2 linked regions of the Homo sapiens genome follow. The protein of the gene in region 1 binds, or shares a complex with, the protein of each later gene. Each region holds a gene or a part of one and is shown in the gene's direction. Other genes may lie near its edges.

Region 1 (7,960 bases):
TGAACAAAGTCTGTCTGGTAAGATGTCCTAATTCATCAGAGATCGGCTTCCCTCCCTGACATTGCTGGCACACAGGCATGATTGCTGGTTCCATTGGATATGGATCTGGATTGTCAGCGTATTTGAACAGTATTAAGGGAGGGTTTTGCAGTAGAGACAGAAGGTGACGTAAGGTGGTTCCTAAGGTGGGTTCGGTCAGTCCCCTAATAGTTTGTTTTCAGTGTATTGAGACCAGGAGAATTGATTTACTTCAGACCTATTTTTTGAAACTCCCTGTTGGTCTGGTGTCATGCGTTTAGAGAGACTCTGAACTTCGTTTTCTGTTTTCCTTAGATAATGATAGCACTTCATGAGCACCATATGTGAAGCACACATACGTTCTGTCTGACTCTCAGAACAGTGCCACATTGGCATTGTCATCATTTACAGATGACATCTGAGAGCTAGGGTGACTTGCCCAAGCCCAAGCAGCTGGTAGCAGAGTTGGGATCTTAACCCTCACCACACCGGTGTTTTCAAGAGAGAACTTGGTCGTGGAGAACTGGAGAACAGATACTGCCTAAGTTACATTTAGTTTTAGACTAATTTAATACTCCATTTAAGAAACAAACAGAACAGCTGTGCAGTTAGGAAAGTGGAGGGGATTTGAATGAGGAGGAGGCGGGTTAGAGTTAGAACCGTCTTTGCTGAACAAGTAGTGTGTTTGCAGAAAGGGAAGTTGAAGTTACGTTGTCCTAAAATACAGCAAGGAAGAGGAGGTGCTTAATACCACGGAAAAAAGTCTGTGTCATGTTTCTGTGAGGTTAAAAGTAATTTGATAGTGTATGTCATGCTGCTGACATATTCCATGTGTTTGATATCTTCCCAGCAAAATAATCAGCTCTCATTTTCCCTTACAGAGTCAACTGTTCATTTTATTTCAAAATTGGAGCATGTCGTCATGGAGACAGGTGCTCTCGGTTGCACAATAAACCGACGTTTAGCCAGGTTTGTTTGCCTTTTTTTCATGTAAATTATAAAAACTTCATGTTCTTTTCAAAGACAGTTAATTTCTACATATTAAGCAAGTCATTTTTTCTCTCGTAGTTGTATTTTCCATTTGTGTTCATAAGTGTGTTCTTTTATTTAAATAATAGTGAGGCAGGTGATCGACTTCCAGTGGAAGGTCTGAGACCACCACTCCTTGTTTTTATCATTAGAGAAACTTTAAAAATCAGTTTTTGATGTTTGTGTGTTGGCTGTGCCTGATATTTGCTGCCCTGCCATCTTCCCTACCCCCTCTGATAGACATGGGTCCAGAGGGGGTGGCCGTGCCAGCCTTGGGTTAGCCTCCTCCAGGCACCAGTGGACACGGAGTGGGCTTTCTGCTCTTTGCTGTCTCCAGACAGTAGAGGTGATGGAGCCACCTTCCAAGTTAGCGTGATTGTCACCAGGCCCATCATGCTGCTCGAGCTTCTCTGGCTGCGTCCTCACTTTCACATCCCTAGCTGAGGAAACAGCGAGTCGCATCACGTCATGGAAACATGAAAAATTAAGCTGAAAGGTAGAAAATGGGCCGTAAATTGCTCTTAGCGGGTCTGTTTGGTTAATTGAGGAGTGCCTGTTATCTTGGGCTTAGATCCGCTCTGAGTTCAGTTCAATCAAAAGTTGTGAGTTTTGATAGTTTTATTTTTGGTTAGTTGAAGAAAAGGCAAAGGTTGGTACACTATAAAGGATCACTTACGGATTAAAGGGAGAAGGCACCTCTAATCGGAGCAGAAAACTTGTGCCCACGTTGATGAGAACATTTGAAATTTGAAAATCGATGCCCAAGTCTTTCCAGATGGAGGGCTGGGGAACTCCTTCCAACCCACCCTTGAAGTCTAAATGTGCAGCCTCTGAGCTGTTGAGTAGCTATTATGCGTGGTCCCTGGGAGCTGCCAGGCTCTGCCTTTGAGCTCACATCTGTCTGTATACGTTTTCCTGTAAGCATTTAAGAAAATCTACCACTTTGTGTAAGTGAGCTGGGAGAAGGAAACATGGGTTTTTTCCGGTTGAAGCCCATGGACGACCCCACAGCACACAGTGTTTTTAGAAGGGAAGAGGATGATGGCTTTTCCCTCCATTATGCTAATTACCAAGTGGTTAGTATAATAGCAGTCTGTCTTTTGATAGCTCTGAACATGAGTTTCTTTTTACAAATTTCAAAATCTTGGAGAACTAGCTTTACATTTTCTGTGTATTGCAATTGTTTTTTCTTTAATGTTTTGATTTATGAACCGAATCTCCCCTAACTAAACCAGTGGCCATGGATTGTGGTATAACCAAGCATCTTAAGTGACCACCCAGTTCTTTGATTTTGGGGGGTGTCCCAAGTGTTGGGCTGAGAGAAATCAACTGTTCCCTATTCTAAAAGTTTTCTTTAATCTGGCTGGAGGCACTTTCTTTATGTTTTTCTGGATCATAGATTACCTGAGAATGTGAAATGTGAAGTTAATTTAGGCATTCCAGGTCAGTGCTGGGGAGAGCCCATTGGAGCTCGATGGGGTCAGTAGTATGTGTCAGCTTAAGCATCCTAGTTTGATGCGTGGGTTTGTTTTGGTTGGTTTTAGGCAATCCTAGCCACCCTTGGCTTTCCCATTAGACTGCATTGCCTCTTTACGTTAAGCTTCCTTCATTAAATAGCCACTGCCAGAATACCTGAGTGAGACCAACTGAATTTTACTGTTGAATAATTGGGCTCAGTTTAGCTTTTCATCAGGGTTGTCATGGTACGGTCATTTCAGTTCAAAGCTGAGTCAAGTCAGCTTTGGGAAGCCTCCCAGGCCTGAGTTCAGTTGACTCAGGGCTGTACTTGGCGGCTTATGGAAGAAACGGGGCCCTGATGCAGGTCTGAGTGGTTCAGTGTGGACAGTTTGTCAGACCTCCCTCTTAGGTGGGGTGGGCTTCCCAGCTGCACACCTTTGACTGAGGAACTCTTCATACAACCACTCCCCTTTAAACAGAGCTAGAAATGGAGCTGGCTGGTTTTATAAAACCACCACTTACAAAACTGCTTCACGTGGATATTGTTGAGACTAAACATTTATTTTTCTAAATCATGCGAGTGATTGCTTTAGCTTGTAAATCTCTAGCATAATTCAGGGTGGGTTTCTTTATAAGCTGCTTACAGTGATATGGACGTTAAGATTCATGTAATATATTAGCCTACTAACTTAAACATGGTTTGTTTTTTCAGACAACTTGATTTTAAGAAGAACGGTACAGTGTAAGGTTTCAAGTCTGCCTGATCCAGTTTAAAGCACAAGGGCTAAAAGGATTTTTTTTCCTTAAAAGAAGGATCGGAAAAGAGCAAATGTTTTAAGCTATTGTATTATGTAAACAGAGATCCCACCAAGAAAGTGTAAATCAGAGCCGGGTGTCCATGACAGTTGACAGACCTGTTTGGTGTGCCTGTTTTGCTAGGAGACCAGAGAACTTGATGTACTGCAGACAGCTGAGTTACGCATTTGGTTTTGAAAAATTATCTTGTGTGAGGAATATGATTATAACGTGAATTTTTCCACATCTTGGTGTCTGCTAGCTTGAAGTACAAGAAAATATTAGTATTCTACTATTTATCTTGCATTAAAACACTTTAACATTGAAAACGTGGGACTAATCAAAACAATACAGTTTCTTCTTGGTTGCTGGCTGACTTGACCCAAGTCACTGCTCAAACTCTGTTTTCATAATATGATGGTTTTGGTGTACTCTTCAGAAGACAAATGTCTGACTTGCGGGAAAAAAACAAACGTTTAGCCATTTGCAAACAAATTGTCTCTTTGCAATTGTCTAATATATGCACAGCAGCCAGTAGAATTCCCCTTTTTATTTTTTTTTCCCCGCAGACCATCTTGATTCAAAACATCTATCGTAATCCCCAAAACAGTGCACAGACGGCTGACGGCTCACACTGTAAGTCCCACAGTTGGAGAAATTTTTTTAAAACAATGGTGTTAAAGAGCCCACTCTTAATTGAGACAAATAATGTTGGCTTCTGAGCTGCTGACATAGAGCTGTTGCAAACAGGACAAGGTGCTGGAACTCCTTGGCGCACACAGCAAGAACTTGATACTTGGCCACGTTCAGGAGGCTTATCCCTTCTAGGGAGGGTCACTGGCCCGGCCACCTCCATTGATTGACATTTGTCATGAGAGCAGGTCCGTCCATGTGAAACGGATTTCAACATTTTGAGCCATTCATTGGTCTTTACAGTGACTGAACCCCTGGCCTTTATTAAGTTCTTTGTGTAAAATTAAAACTCTTAGGAATATTAAGGAATCAATAAGGTAAGTTGCCCAGTAAGTGTGGGTTTTATTTCACCATTATAATTTTTCCTCCAGGAAGTGGAGATTTCATGATATGTAACAATTGTATTTCTCTAATACAGTAATTTTTTCCATCAGTTTATGTAAGCATTATTCTTTCCGAGTTCATTAAAAATTTTCTGCCACATCTAAGAACATTTTGGTGCTAGCCTGGCAAACTATTTGTGCTTTTACCTGAATTGGAATTTTGAAAAGGAGAGTTTTCACGTTCTGTAAGCAGAAGTACAAGATGGGCATATCATGAGACCTCCGTTACACCGCAGTGTTAGGGATTCAAGGCAGCCGCCAACTGAGAAAACGCCTCTGCTTCTCCAGAAAATAACTTGCTCTCTTTTCAGCACTGAATCTCAACTGAAGCACTTGCCAGAGGCAGCCGGTTAAGTGTTTACCTTTAATTTTCCATAATATAAAGTTGTTGCGTTTTGTATTTCAGACCATTGCCCTCTTGAACATTTACCGTAACCCTCAAAACTCTTCCCAGTCTGCTGACGGTTTGCGCTGTAAGTTCATACAAGTTCCTTCCCCGGTTCCCTGGGCTTGCGTGTCAGAGCTCAGTGTCCACTCCATCTGGTCTGCCGTGCTAGTGTCAAGGACCGCGTTTCACTAGAGGTGGCAAGGAGCTTTCGTCCCACTGACCCCATGGAAACCTCTTTTGGAGATTTGAACTCCCACCGTGTGTTAAAAGGGAAAAAGTAACTGGAAAGGGTGCCCTTTAAAACAGTCTAGAGCTGGGCCGGGCGCGGTGGCTCACGCCTGTAATCCCAGCACTTTGGGAGGCCGAGGCGGGTGGATCATGAGGTCAGGAGTTCAAGACCAATCTGGCCAACATGGTGAAACCCCATCTCTACTAAAGATACAAAAATTAGCTGGGCGTGGTGGCAGATGCCTGCAATCCCAGCTTCTAGGGAGGCTGAGGCAGAGAATCGCTTGAACCCGGGAGGCGGAGGTTGCAGTGAACTGAGATCGTGCCGCTGCACTCCAGCCTGGGCGACAGAGTGAGACTCCGTCTCCAAAAAAAAAAAAAAAAACAGTCTGGAGCTGCTGCTGCCCCTTCTTCCTTTACTTTGGCCGTCATCCTAGAGGGAATGTACTGGAATTAAACGTCGAGTCATATTCTTCCCTCTTAGAGCAACAAAATTTGAATGTTTCTCTCACTTTCTGGAATTTTTAAAAAGCAAACTTTTTAAGTTATTTTTTCAGATTTTATTTCTCATTAGCCTTTTTTCCTTGAACTCCATTTTGGAGTGCACCCTGTAGTTGTAAGAGCATTGTGCTGAGAGCGTTCCCCAAATGAGGGTCTGCAGCTTGCACTGACCCCTGAGTTCCTCACCCACCAGCCCCGTGCCGACCCGTCTAACCCGTGTGGGGGTGCTCCACTCAAATAGGCCCTTGGCAGAAAAGATTGTCCGTTCTGTCCACACACTGCCTGGATACAGTCTCCAGCTCTAGGAGATGGAATTGGTTTGCTCCATTTAGAAATAGATCAAAACTGGGCATTCAGTAGATGGTACCAATATCTTCCTGTACTGGGAAATACTAAATTTAGATTGTGAATATTTACCTAATGATAATTTTTAGAGAAGGAGATATCATAGATGAGTATGATTGGGAAGTTCAGAAAACTAAAATTTGATTTTTACAGCCATCCAACTATAGAATCATTAGAATTTAGTCATTTATGGATAAATTAAAATGAACACCTGGACTCTTGTTAAAATCAGAAAGTCCAAACCAAAGATAGGCACTTCCCATTCACCATTCTGTTTTAAAGCAGTAAAAATTGAGGTGCCCTTGGATATCCACAAGCCTAAATTGAGTACACCCTTGAACCAGAGCCCCTCAGTTAATGGGGTGACCGACATGGGGTAGCTGATCCCAGGGGGCATTCCCCTCTCGAGCTGGCCCTGCACTGGGTGGCCTGGGGATTGTGCTTCCTTGCACAGTGGTGCACATTTCTATGTGTGGATGAGATTTTCTTGTCAACTTTTCCTGCCAAGACACTAAATGCTTTTCAGTGCTAATACTGACCTGATAGTAGAGATTTCTTTCCCTGAGTCGGATGGTAGCAGGATTTACTTGGTAACCCTTGGTTTAAAATACCTGTTTTTTTGTTTGTTTGTTTTCTTTTGTTTTTTAAGGAAATAAGATCAATAGGCGGAGGGAAATTGTTTCTATATGCACTTATTAAATAATTTTTGTTAACAACCCTGCCCTGGGATAAAAGTGAATGGAAGTACATGACTGAGTAACAGTAATTAATTCTTTGCCCTGATCGTTTATTTGGGGACTGTATATGCTTTCTTGACTGACAATAGAATGTTGTATTAGTTTTCATTGTGTCTTTATTTGCAGTTCACAGCACTTTTGTTTTGCATATGCTACAAACTAAAAGTTTAGCAATTACGTTATATTCCAATTCTGGAGTCCAGATTGTACAAATTAGATGAAATTCTAATTCGTCATTTTAGGAAGAAATCAATTACCTAAAATTACTGGCTCTTTTCAACATACCCTTTAGTATGTAAAAAAATAAGCTTCAAATGCGTGGGTTAAAGTTAACTATCAATCCCAGTTTAAGAATGATATTTCTGTAAGAAAACTGCTTTATTTTCCAAGTTGTAGTATTTAACATAGGCTGAGTCACAAATAAGTTTTTAATTGTATCTTAATGCAGTTGTCTCTGCCTTTCAAGTCACTTTGATTGAAACATTTTAAGCAGAACAAATATAGCCAATAATTTAAAATAATCACCCCAAAACCATTTCTCAAACCTGCTAAAACTTTGAGCATGTGAATAATTTTCTCCTCTTCACATTCTTCTTATGTGGGAAGGAAGTGAATTTGAAATATTAAAATCTGCCCTTTGGAATAGGCTACTTTGGCCGTTTATAACTTGATTTCTACTCGGGGAGGAAGGTACATTCCCAATAGCTTTCCAATTGGGATATCCTGTGATATGATTGGCAGGCTGTCCGAGTAGTTACACTTAATAAAATTTGGGTTCGAAAGCAGATTCCTGGAAGTTCAAAAATAACTAAAACAGCCCCGGATAGGTTAGAAAGTGAACTTAAATCATTCTCAGAATTAGAAAATAAGAAGTTATTTTTTATCTTCAAAGATAAAAAGGGGGCCGGGCACGGTGGCTCACGCCTGTAATCCCAGCACTTTGGAAAGCCGAGGCAAGTGGATCACGAGGTCGAGAGATTGAGACCATCCTGGCCAACATGGTGGAACCCCGTCTCTACTAAAACTACAAAAATTAGCCAAGATCACGCCATTGCACTCCAGCCTGGAGACAGTGAGACGCCGTCTCAAAAAAAAAAAAAAAAAAGATAAAAAGAGTTTTGAGCAAGCTCAAAGACCCGTGTGCCAGCAGTCAGATGCCCACGTTGGGTGCACAGGCTAAGGCAGCCGGCCCAATCTGGAAACCAGTCAGGCTTTTGCCAGCCCCTAATCTAGCTGATTGGAACATGTTTGTTGATACACCAGCTCTGTGATTTCTCAGGTTTAGAGAACTCTAGAATTTGATAGAGTGGGCCGGGGGCAGTGGCTCATGCCTGTAATCTCAGCACTTTGGGAGGCTGAGGTAAGCAGATCACGTGAGGTCAGGA
Region 2 (7,960 bases), on another chromosome or scaffold:
ACATTCGAGAGTATGGCCTCGTGCTTAACTCACTGATGTCAGAGTGTTTAAATTCTGGTGTCACCATTTCCTAGCTGTTTGACCTTGGTAATTGTGATCTCTCTATACCTTAGTTTCCTTACCCATTATGTCAGCCCCCAGCAGTGTTTTTCCGAAGCAGTAGTGAGGATTAAGAACAAACAAAACAATTTAGTACAGATTCCGGTTGTAGGAAGCATCTCAATATTTGTTGCTGTTTTTTTCCCTGCTGGGTGCATATTTTTCTGAGTGTTGGTGGTTTTGGAATTGTGATGCTTTTCCAGACATTCACATTGCATCGCAAAAACGTGAGACAAAACACTGTGGGTGAGGCTGAAGTTTAACATCCTCCCTCAGTGCCCTTTCCTCCTCTTGTCCCCAGGGATGATCACTCCAGGAGATGCGTGTTAACATATATAAGCACCTTAACGTGTGCATCTGTTTTGTGTGTGTGCTTCATGGCTAGCTGAGAAATCTGGGTGTCTTTGAATTAAGGAAATGGTGTGGCGGTGCTCATGAACCCCCCCGCCCCCCCATGCTCATGGTTTATCCTCCATCTTGAAGGGCCGGTCTCTCTTCAGGGGTTGAAGGGTCTGGTGAGAGCAGAGGTTTCTGTGGTTTTGCCAGTGAGGCTCCGTTCCTAGTGGCTACCTCAGGCAAATAGAGGGTTGAGGGAGCCTGCTGGAGGCTGGCAGAGATACCCGCCCCTACTCACGCCTTTACAGTCTCTTCAGTACTTGGCTTTGAAGGGAGTGAGGCTGAGAGATTCAAGTGGTTTGGGATTCAAGTCTGGATGGGGCAAGCTCCTCCCCTGACCTGCTGAAGGAGAGGAGGGCCTCTTTCCCCTTCAGTCTGCAGATTCTCCGAGGCCCTTCTCTTCCCCTGGGAAGGGTGCTTGCTTCTGCATTATTCACCGGCTTGGGAAGGGATGGGTTGAGTTTCCCTGCTTCCTGGGGATATCAGATCCTGCCTGGCACCTGACCCCTAGTCCTGATGGTGGGGCTGTGGGTGCCAGCTAGTTGCAGAGGTCTTTCCTGAGGGGTCGCTGGGTCCCTTCAGGAAAACATCATTGGGTCTCTTGATTCCCCAGCCTCTAGCCCTGCCCCTCTCAGGGACGACCCTGGGGTCAGGCCCCTCAGCCCTCGAGGGGGACCAGGAGCCAGCCTCCTCTGTCTTCTCTGGCTCCCCAGCTCCTCCTGAGCATCCTCAGGTATCTTACACCCCGGGGGCATTTCCAGGCCCCGTCCCCCTGGTCCCCTCATGGTCCCTGGACTCGCTTGTGGACCCAGGAGGCCTGTTAATTCCCTTCCTCCATTGAATCCCTTCCCTTTGGGGGTGGCCTCCCTGGGGCTTGGGACATAGCCACCAGCGCGCAGGGTGGGCTGGGCCCGCATCCTTACTCCGCTTATCCCGTGCCCCTCCTCTCACCCTTGCCCAGAGCGGGACAAGGAGAACCGGCATCGGAAGCGCAGCCACAGCCGCTCTCGGAGCCGGGACCGCAAACGCCGGAGCCGGAGCCGCGACCGGCGCAACCGGGACCAGCGGAGCGCCTCCCGGGACAGGCGACGACGCAGGTACTAGGGCTCAGGGATCCCCTGGGCCAGCCTGGGAGTCGGGGGGTCGGTGTTGGCCGGCCTGTGGGTGGCCTGTGTGTGTCTGTGTCTGGGTCCGGGCCCTGTGTGGCTCGTTCGTTCTTTGTGTGGATCTGGGGGAGGGATCTACTGCTTGGTCTGTCTTGGATTCCGATTTTTTCCCCCGTTTCTGGGGTTTCTTTCATTTTCTGTCTTGGTGGTTGCTGGTGGGTTGCTGGGGGCAATAGGCTCTTTATCTGGAGCCTGGGAATTGATTCTGTGTTTTCCTTCACAAGGGGTTGTTCTCTGTCTCTGACTCTGAGGGCCTGTTCCTTCTTTTCGACTCTCTGTGGCTCTCTGTGGGACTCTCTTCGAGGGGGTTGGTCTCTGCCTCCAGTTTCTTTCTTCCCTGCCTCCCAGGAGAAGGGAGCTCTTGGGACCGAGGCAGTATCCACAGCCTGGGCTGACTTTTTGGCCCAGGGGTGTCGGTTTCCACCGCCTCTTCCCTTCTAGGCTCCCCTTTCTGTTCTCTGCCTCCTTAGGTGAGGAAGGGCAGGATAGGCGGAAGTCCTCCTGCCTCCTCCCGGCTCAGTTTCTCCAGCTAGAGACTGGTCCTTCCTGGCCCCTGGCCCCTTTCTCCTTTCCTCACTTCCTCTTTCCTGGGGGTGGGAGTGTTTGGGGGGAAATGGCAGGGCCGAGGGTGGCCTGCTTGCTGCTTGTTGACCTCGGCCCTGCTCCCACCCTGGGGCTCAGTGCCCTTGGGGGGGTGTGGCATGTGGGGAAGACGAGGGTCCCCAGTCACCCCTCCCCATACCTTTCCCTCCCACCCCCCAGCAAACCTTTGACCAGAGGCGCTAAAGAGGAGCACGGTGGACTGATGTGAGCTTCTCTTCCTGCCCCTTCCTCCCTGATGTCCACTCCCTTCACCTTCCTCACGCCCGTGCACCCTGTCCCGCCCATTTCCAGCCCTGGCCCAAGCACTGGGAAGAGTCCACTTACCTTGAAACCAGCACCCCTTTCCCAGGCCCTGCCCCAGACCCTCTCCTTCCCTGGAGAGAGTGGAGCTTACATGGTTGCGGGGAGGGTGAAAGGGTGCCTGGGAGGGGGCTCGCAGGCCCACTGTTGGTCAGACTGAGGTTGCCCTGCCCCGCTCTCCCCTCCCACCTCCCCCAGTCGTTCCCCCCGCCACGAGAAGAAGAAGAAGGTCCGTAAATACTGGGACGTGCCACCCCCAGGCTTTGAGCACATCACCCCAATGCAGTACAAGGCCATGCAAGGTAGGCCCCTGGCCAGGCTGCTCCCAGAGCGGGAGGGTACAGGGGTTGGGATTCTCCGTCAGTCATTCCCCTGCGTGTGTGCTTGGAGGGGGTCAAAGACACAGGTAGAGGGTTGCACACCCCTGGGGGTTCTGGTCTCTGCGCTTTTGAAGCCTCCCTAGAGGAGGAAATGACCAGAGACACCCGTGGTTGACAGGGGAATGAGGCCTCCATCTGGACGCCATTAGGAAGTGAGGCTTCTGAGGAGCAGCAGTTACTGGGTGGGGGCCCCGAGGGTGGAAAGAGGGTTCTGGAAGGTGCTAAGACCGAGAGCCTGTAGGAGCTTTCTGCTGAGGAGGGGAACTCCCAGTGTGTGGTGAGGGGTGGTCACTGAGCATTCCCCTGATGGGGTTTTATCCGGCTTTTATTCCCTTTGAAGCTGCGGGTCAGATTCCAGCCACTGCTCTTCTCCCCACCATGACCCCTGACGGTCTGGCTGTGACCCCAACGCCGGTGCCCGTGGTCGGGAGCCAGATGACCAGACAAGCCCGGCGCCTCTACGTGGGCAACATCCCCTTTGGCATCACTGAGGTACTGCCCTCCCCTGCCCCCTACCCTCTCCCTTGTCCCTCTACCCCGTTCCTCCCCTTCCCTCCATTCCCTTTCCCCAACCTGCACGGGTCAGACTCTGCTCCTGCAAGACCCCCCGGCCCCCTCCCAGACGGACCGATGGAGTTGAGCCAGCCAGGGGCCGGGCTGGGGGTGGCCCTCCCTCCCTCCTCTTCCCCTCTCCCGTCTCCCCTCCCCCCAACCTCCTCCAGCAACCCAGGGATCAAGCACACACATAATGTACCCACGTGTTGTACCTACGTGTCGGAGAGAGACAGAGAGGGAGACTTGGACACACACACACACACACACACACACACACACACACACACACAGACGCACGCTGCCCCTCAGTTTTTTTCTGACACGCCTCTCGTTCTCTGCCGCCTGTCCCCTATCCTCTCCCCCACGTCCCTCCCATGGTCGCTGTTCTTTTATTTTTGATCGCCCCTGACCTCCCCCTTCCCCACCACTCCTTTTCCCTCTCCCCTCTCCCCAACCCCTTCCTGTGGCACCCCCTGAGAATCCCGAGATCAAAGAGTTGTTTCCATTTCTCTTTAAAGTGAAATATTGTGGGGCTGAGATCCCTCGTAGCAACAAAAAGTTTGCTACCATCGTCGAAGGCAAGTAAGGTCCATTCTGACTTTCTCAACCTGCACTTTGCTACATTTGATAAACCAGCCCCCGGACTCCAGGGCCAGATTCCTCCACATCACTCTTTTCTCCTCCCCTCCCGTCCCTGCCCCTCCTCCCTACACTCCTCCTCTCCTGCCCCTGCACTCTTGACTTCCTCCTCCTCGCTCGTCTCTGTCCTGCTCTCCCTTTCTGTCCTTTGCTCGTCTCTGCCCCTGCCTGCCACTTCCTTTCTACTTTCCTGCCACTTTTCTGTCTGTCTCCACTGGGTGGCCCTTCCTGTGTGCTCTGTCTCTTCATCTCTTGTGTTTCGTGTTTTTCTTCATTTTGTGTTGTCATCATGCCCTCTGCCTTTTCTTGAACAATCTTCTCCTTTCCCCTGATTTTTTGGGGCCCCTGTGGCTGTCCCCCAACGCCTGTCCATCGCCTGCCCTTGGCCGTCTCTTGCTACTGCTTCCTCCCCATTTTCTCTCTTGCTTCTGTTCTTACTATTGACTTCTACACCCCCACCCATATTCCACTGTTCCTTCCCCCCCTCCTCCCTCCCCTCATCCCTCTCCCCTTACCCCCAAACCCCTCTGTGTCTCCCTCTCTCACCCTTCCCCTCCTCTCTCCACCTCCCTTCCCCCGCCCCCCCCCTTGTCTCCTATTCCCTCTGCAGGAGGCCATGATGGATTTCTTCAACGCCCAGATGCGCCTGGGGGGGCTGACCCAGGCCCCTGGCAACCCAGTGTTGGCTGTGCAGATTAACCAGGACAAGAATTTTGCCTTTTTGGAGGTGAGCTGGGGGAGTGAGTGAGGTCCAGGAAACGTGTGTGATGTGAGGGCCCAGCCCTTAGGCTGATGTTGTGTGGAGCTGCCTTGTGCTGTTTCCACCAGGCCCTCTGCAGCCTCTTCTCCACCCGGTCGCTGAAGTGAGCCCTGTTATAGCATTACAGATCTGATCCTACTTTCTGCCTTCCATTTGCTTTCTGTGTGACCTGAGAGGCCTGTTTGGCCTCTGTAGACCTCTTTGGCCTTTTCCAGACCATTCCGGCCCAGTCCTCTCTGCACTCTGGCCACACTGACCTTCCCAGAACCTACCATGCTCCTGCCTGCTTGGCTAGAGTTCTTTACACCAGCTAACTGATGTTCCTAACTAGTCTTCTGTTACCCCAGCTAACTGATGTTCCTAACTAGTCTTCTGTGTCTGTGTTTCTCAACTGTCGGGAAAAGGCCTTGGTTTTTGATTTTCGACTCTTGGTGGACTGATAACTCTCATGAAGTATTGTGAAGGTGTGGGCAGTGTTAGCTTACTGCAGAGATTTCTGAGCACTCCCTCTCACTGTCTGAGCACTCCCTCTCACTCTGTCCCTCTCACTCTGTCTTTGCCTCACTGCAGTCCACTTGCAGTTGCATTGCTCCGGAGATGGGCTGAAATGTCCCCCTCACCAGAAAGACTCCAGTACTGTCATCTCCCCGTTCAACTAACCTTTCCCGTAACATCCCTTTTCAGCACTTTGTCCCTCTTCCGTGTCATCACAGCCTGCAATTGTGTGTTTGCCTCTGTGTTTGTGTTGGGTGCCTGGTGTTTTTAATGGTCGAGTGTGAGCTCCTGGCAGCAGGGACATGCGTGTCTGTTGTACTCCCAGTGCCCAGCCTGGGGCCTGGCATGTTGTATTTGTTCACATGAGTGAAAGGAAAGAGGAAATCCCAATCCTGGAACACTAGGGGCTGTACTAGTCCCTGACCCCCATCCCTCACCACTCCTTTCTCTTTCATTCAGTTCCGCTCAGTGGACGAGACTACCCAGGCTATGGCCTTTGATGGCATCATCTTCCAGGGCCAGTCACTAAAGATCCGCAGGCCTCACGACTACCAGCCGCTTCCTGGCATGTCAGAGAACCCCTCCGTCTATGTGCCTGGTGAGTGGGGGATCCATTAAGGGCCCCTTTCTCCCCCAGTCCTGTTCCCATGGCCTGTCCATCCCTTCAGCCCAGCTGGAGTGGCTTAGGAAGTTGTGTAAGTACTGTGGAAGATAGGTGCCTTTTCCCTGCTTCCCCTAAGTCTCTGTGAGTGGGGTGCTCTCCTGCTGGTAGAGAAGGTGCCTAGGGCCGGGAGAATGAGCTGTCACCTGCTGAGGACACACAGCTTGTACGTGGCAGAGCCAGGATCAGACCAAAGGTGCTGGGGAAGCGAGGGGCTTGTGGCCTGGACCTCGTGCCTGCGTTGCGGCTGTGGGACCTTGGAGGGCTCAGTCTGTGCCCGTCGGGGCTGCTGTGTGTCGACGGTTGGCAGCAAAGCTGCTGCTGTGGGGTCTGGCACCTGGGTATTCACTTGTTTTTGTCTCCTAGTGTTTGCCTTGAATCTTGTGTTCTGGGCCATTCCCCATAGCTGTGTTGAACATCATCTGTAATTGGTAGGTAACATAGCAGACCAGGGGTTGGCGACCATGTCACTGTGTGTGAAAGCAGCCGGACGGTGTCTGCGTGCGTGGGCCTGGCTGTGTGCCGGCACACCTCGACACGCGTGGCTGCTGAGGTTGGGCTTTCCTGTGCTTCTCACAGGCCACAGAATGGTCTCCCTTTAGAAAGCTTGCAGGATGTGCAAAACCAGGTGATGGGCCCTGTCAGCCCACAGGCTATAGTTGGCTGACCCTTGTAGCTGATGAATGGGATTTGAGGGAGGGCTTGTCTGATGCCCTGTCAGGGTGCGGCTGTGTCTCAGGCCTGGGACATGGAGGAGGTGGGGTTCTGCTGGCGGGTACTCACTGTTCGAGGAGCCCTTTAGGAACTGAGTCAGCTCTTCAGGGCAGGCGATGTGGAGCCCCAGACGGAGGCACATCTGTGTCAGGCAGGACTTGGGCTAGGTCCCTCACTGGCCTCCAGTGCTTTTCTTTTTGTTGTTGTTGTTGTTTTGAGACAGTCTCGCTCTGTCACCCAGGCTGGAATGCAGTGGCACGATCTCGGCTTACTGCATCCTCCGCCTCTAGGGTTCAAGCAATTCTCCTGCTTCAGCCTCCCGAGCAGCTGGGATTACAGGCACCTGCCACCATGTCTGGCTAATTTTTGTATTTTTAGTAGAGGGTGGGTTTCACCATGTTGGTCAGGTTGGTCTCCGACGCCTGACCTCAAGTGATCCGCTCACCTCAGTCTCCCAGAGTGTTGGGATTACAGGCATGAGCCACTGCGCTCAGCCCAGTGCTTTTCCATCATGGGTTTTGGTAAATTCAGCTAACCTTTTGGAGCCTGTAATATATGTTGACATGCTCCCAATCGACATGGACTTTTTACGTATGGGTGCGTTTCCCCGATCAAGCTGCAGAATGTCTTCCCCACGTCTCTTCCTGGTGAATCCACTGCGTTTTCATTCATTTTAAGTCCCATGAGTGGCCCGCCACTTGCTGGTGCTTAGTGTGTGTCAGGCGCTGTCCTAAGTGCCCTCCATGCACGGCAGTTCTACGACACAGGGATTGGCGCTGTCCTAAGTGCCCTCCATGGACGGCAGTTCTACGACACAGGGATTGGCGCTGTCCTAAGTGCCCTCCATGCACGGCAGTTCTACGACACAGGGATTGGCGCTGTCCTAAGTGCCCTCCATGGACGGCAGTTCTACGACACAGGGATTGGCGCTGTCCTAAGTGCCCTCCATGGACGGCAGTTCTACGACACAGGGATTGGCGCTGTCCTAAGTGCCCTCCATGGACGGCAGTTCTACGACACAGGGATTGGCGCTGTCCTAAGTGCCCTCCATGCACGGCAGTTCTACGACACAGGGATTGGCAGGTTACAACTGAGAGTCCAACGCTGGCCCACTGCCTGTTTTTTGTTTTTTTGTTGTGTTTTTTGAGACGGAGTCTTGCTGTGTTGCCCAGGCTGGAGTGCAGTGGTGTGA

Evidence for each region. Proteins that work in one complex are often made in the same cells at the same time.
Region 2: the proteins of U2AF1 (region 1) and U2AF2 are in contact, whole or in part, in a crystal structure (PDB 1JMT), measured with the Homo sapiens proteins. Residues at the interface, in NP_006749.1 of Homo sapiens: His77, Glu80, Phe81, Glu84, Val85, Glu88, Met89, Leu130, Asn131, Asn132, Arg133, Trp134, Phe135, Asn136, Gly137, Gln138, Pro139, Ile140, His141; in NP_009210.1 of Homo sapiens: Lys90 (codon at 2,800), Tyr91 (codon at 2,803), Trp92 (codon at 2,806), Asp93 (codon at 2,809), Val94 (codon at 2,812), Pro95 (codon at 2,815), Pro96 (codon at 2,818), Phe99 (codon at 2,827), Ile102 (codon at 2,836), Thr103 (codon at 2,839), Pro104 (codon at 2,842), Met105 (codon at 2,845), Tyr107 (codon at 2,851), Lys108 (codon at 2,854), Gln111 (codon at 2,863).

Annotation. Positions count from the first base shown.
Region 1 is NC_000021.9:43,097,342-43,105,301, reverse strand, and holds part of U2AF1 (splicing factor U2AF 35 kDa subunit), read left to right. Parts: intron 1-899; coding exon 900-987; intron 988-3,869; coding exon of another isoform or gene 3,870-3,936; intron 3,937-4,782; coding exon 4,783-4,849; intron 4,850-7,960. UniProt on the Homo sapiens protein: Plays a critical role in both constitutive and enhancer-dependent splicing by mediating protein-protein interactions and protein-RNA interactions required for accurate 3'-splice site selection. Recruits U2 snRNP to the branch point.
Region 2 is NC_000019.10:55,657,754-55,665,713, forward strand, and holds part of U2AF2 (splicing factor U2AF 65 kDa subunit), read left to right. Parts: intron 1-1,108; exon of another isoform or gene 1,109-1,228; intron 1,229-1,456; coding exon 1,457-1,592; intron 1,593-2,423; coding exon 2,424-2,468; intron 2,469-2,762; coding exon 2,763-2,866; intron 2,867-3,284; coding exon 3,285-3,436; intron 3,437-4,017; exon of another isoform or gene 4,018-4,077; intron 4,078-4,748; coding exon 4,749-4,865; intron 4,866-5,852; coding exon 5,853-5,991; intron 5,992-7,960. UniProt on the Homo sapiens protein: Plays a role in pre-mRNA splicing and 3'-end processing. By recruiting PRPF19 and the PRP19C/Prp19 complex/NTC/Nineteen complex to the RNA polymerase II C-terminal domain (CTD), and thereby pre-mRNA, may couple transcription to splicing.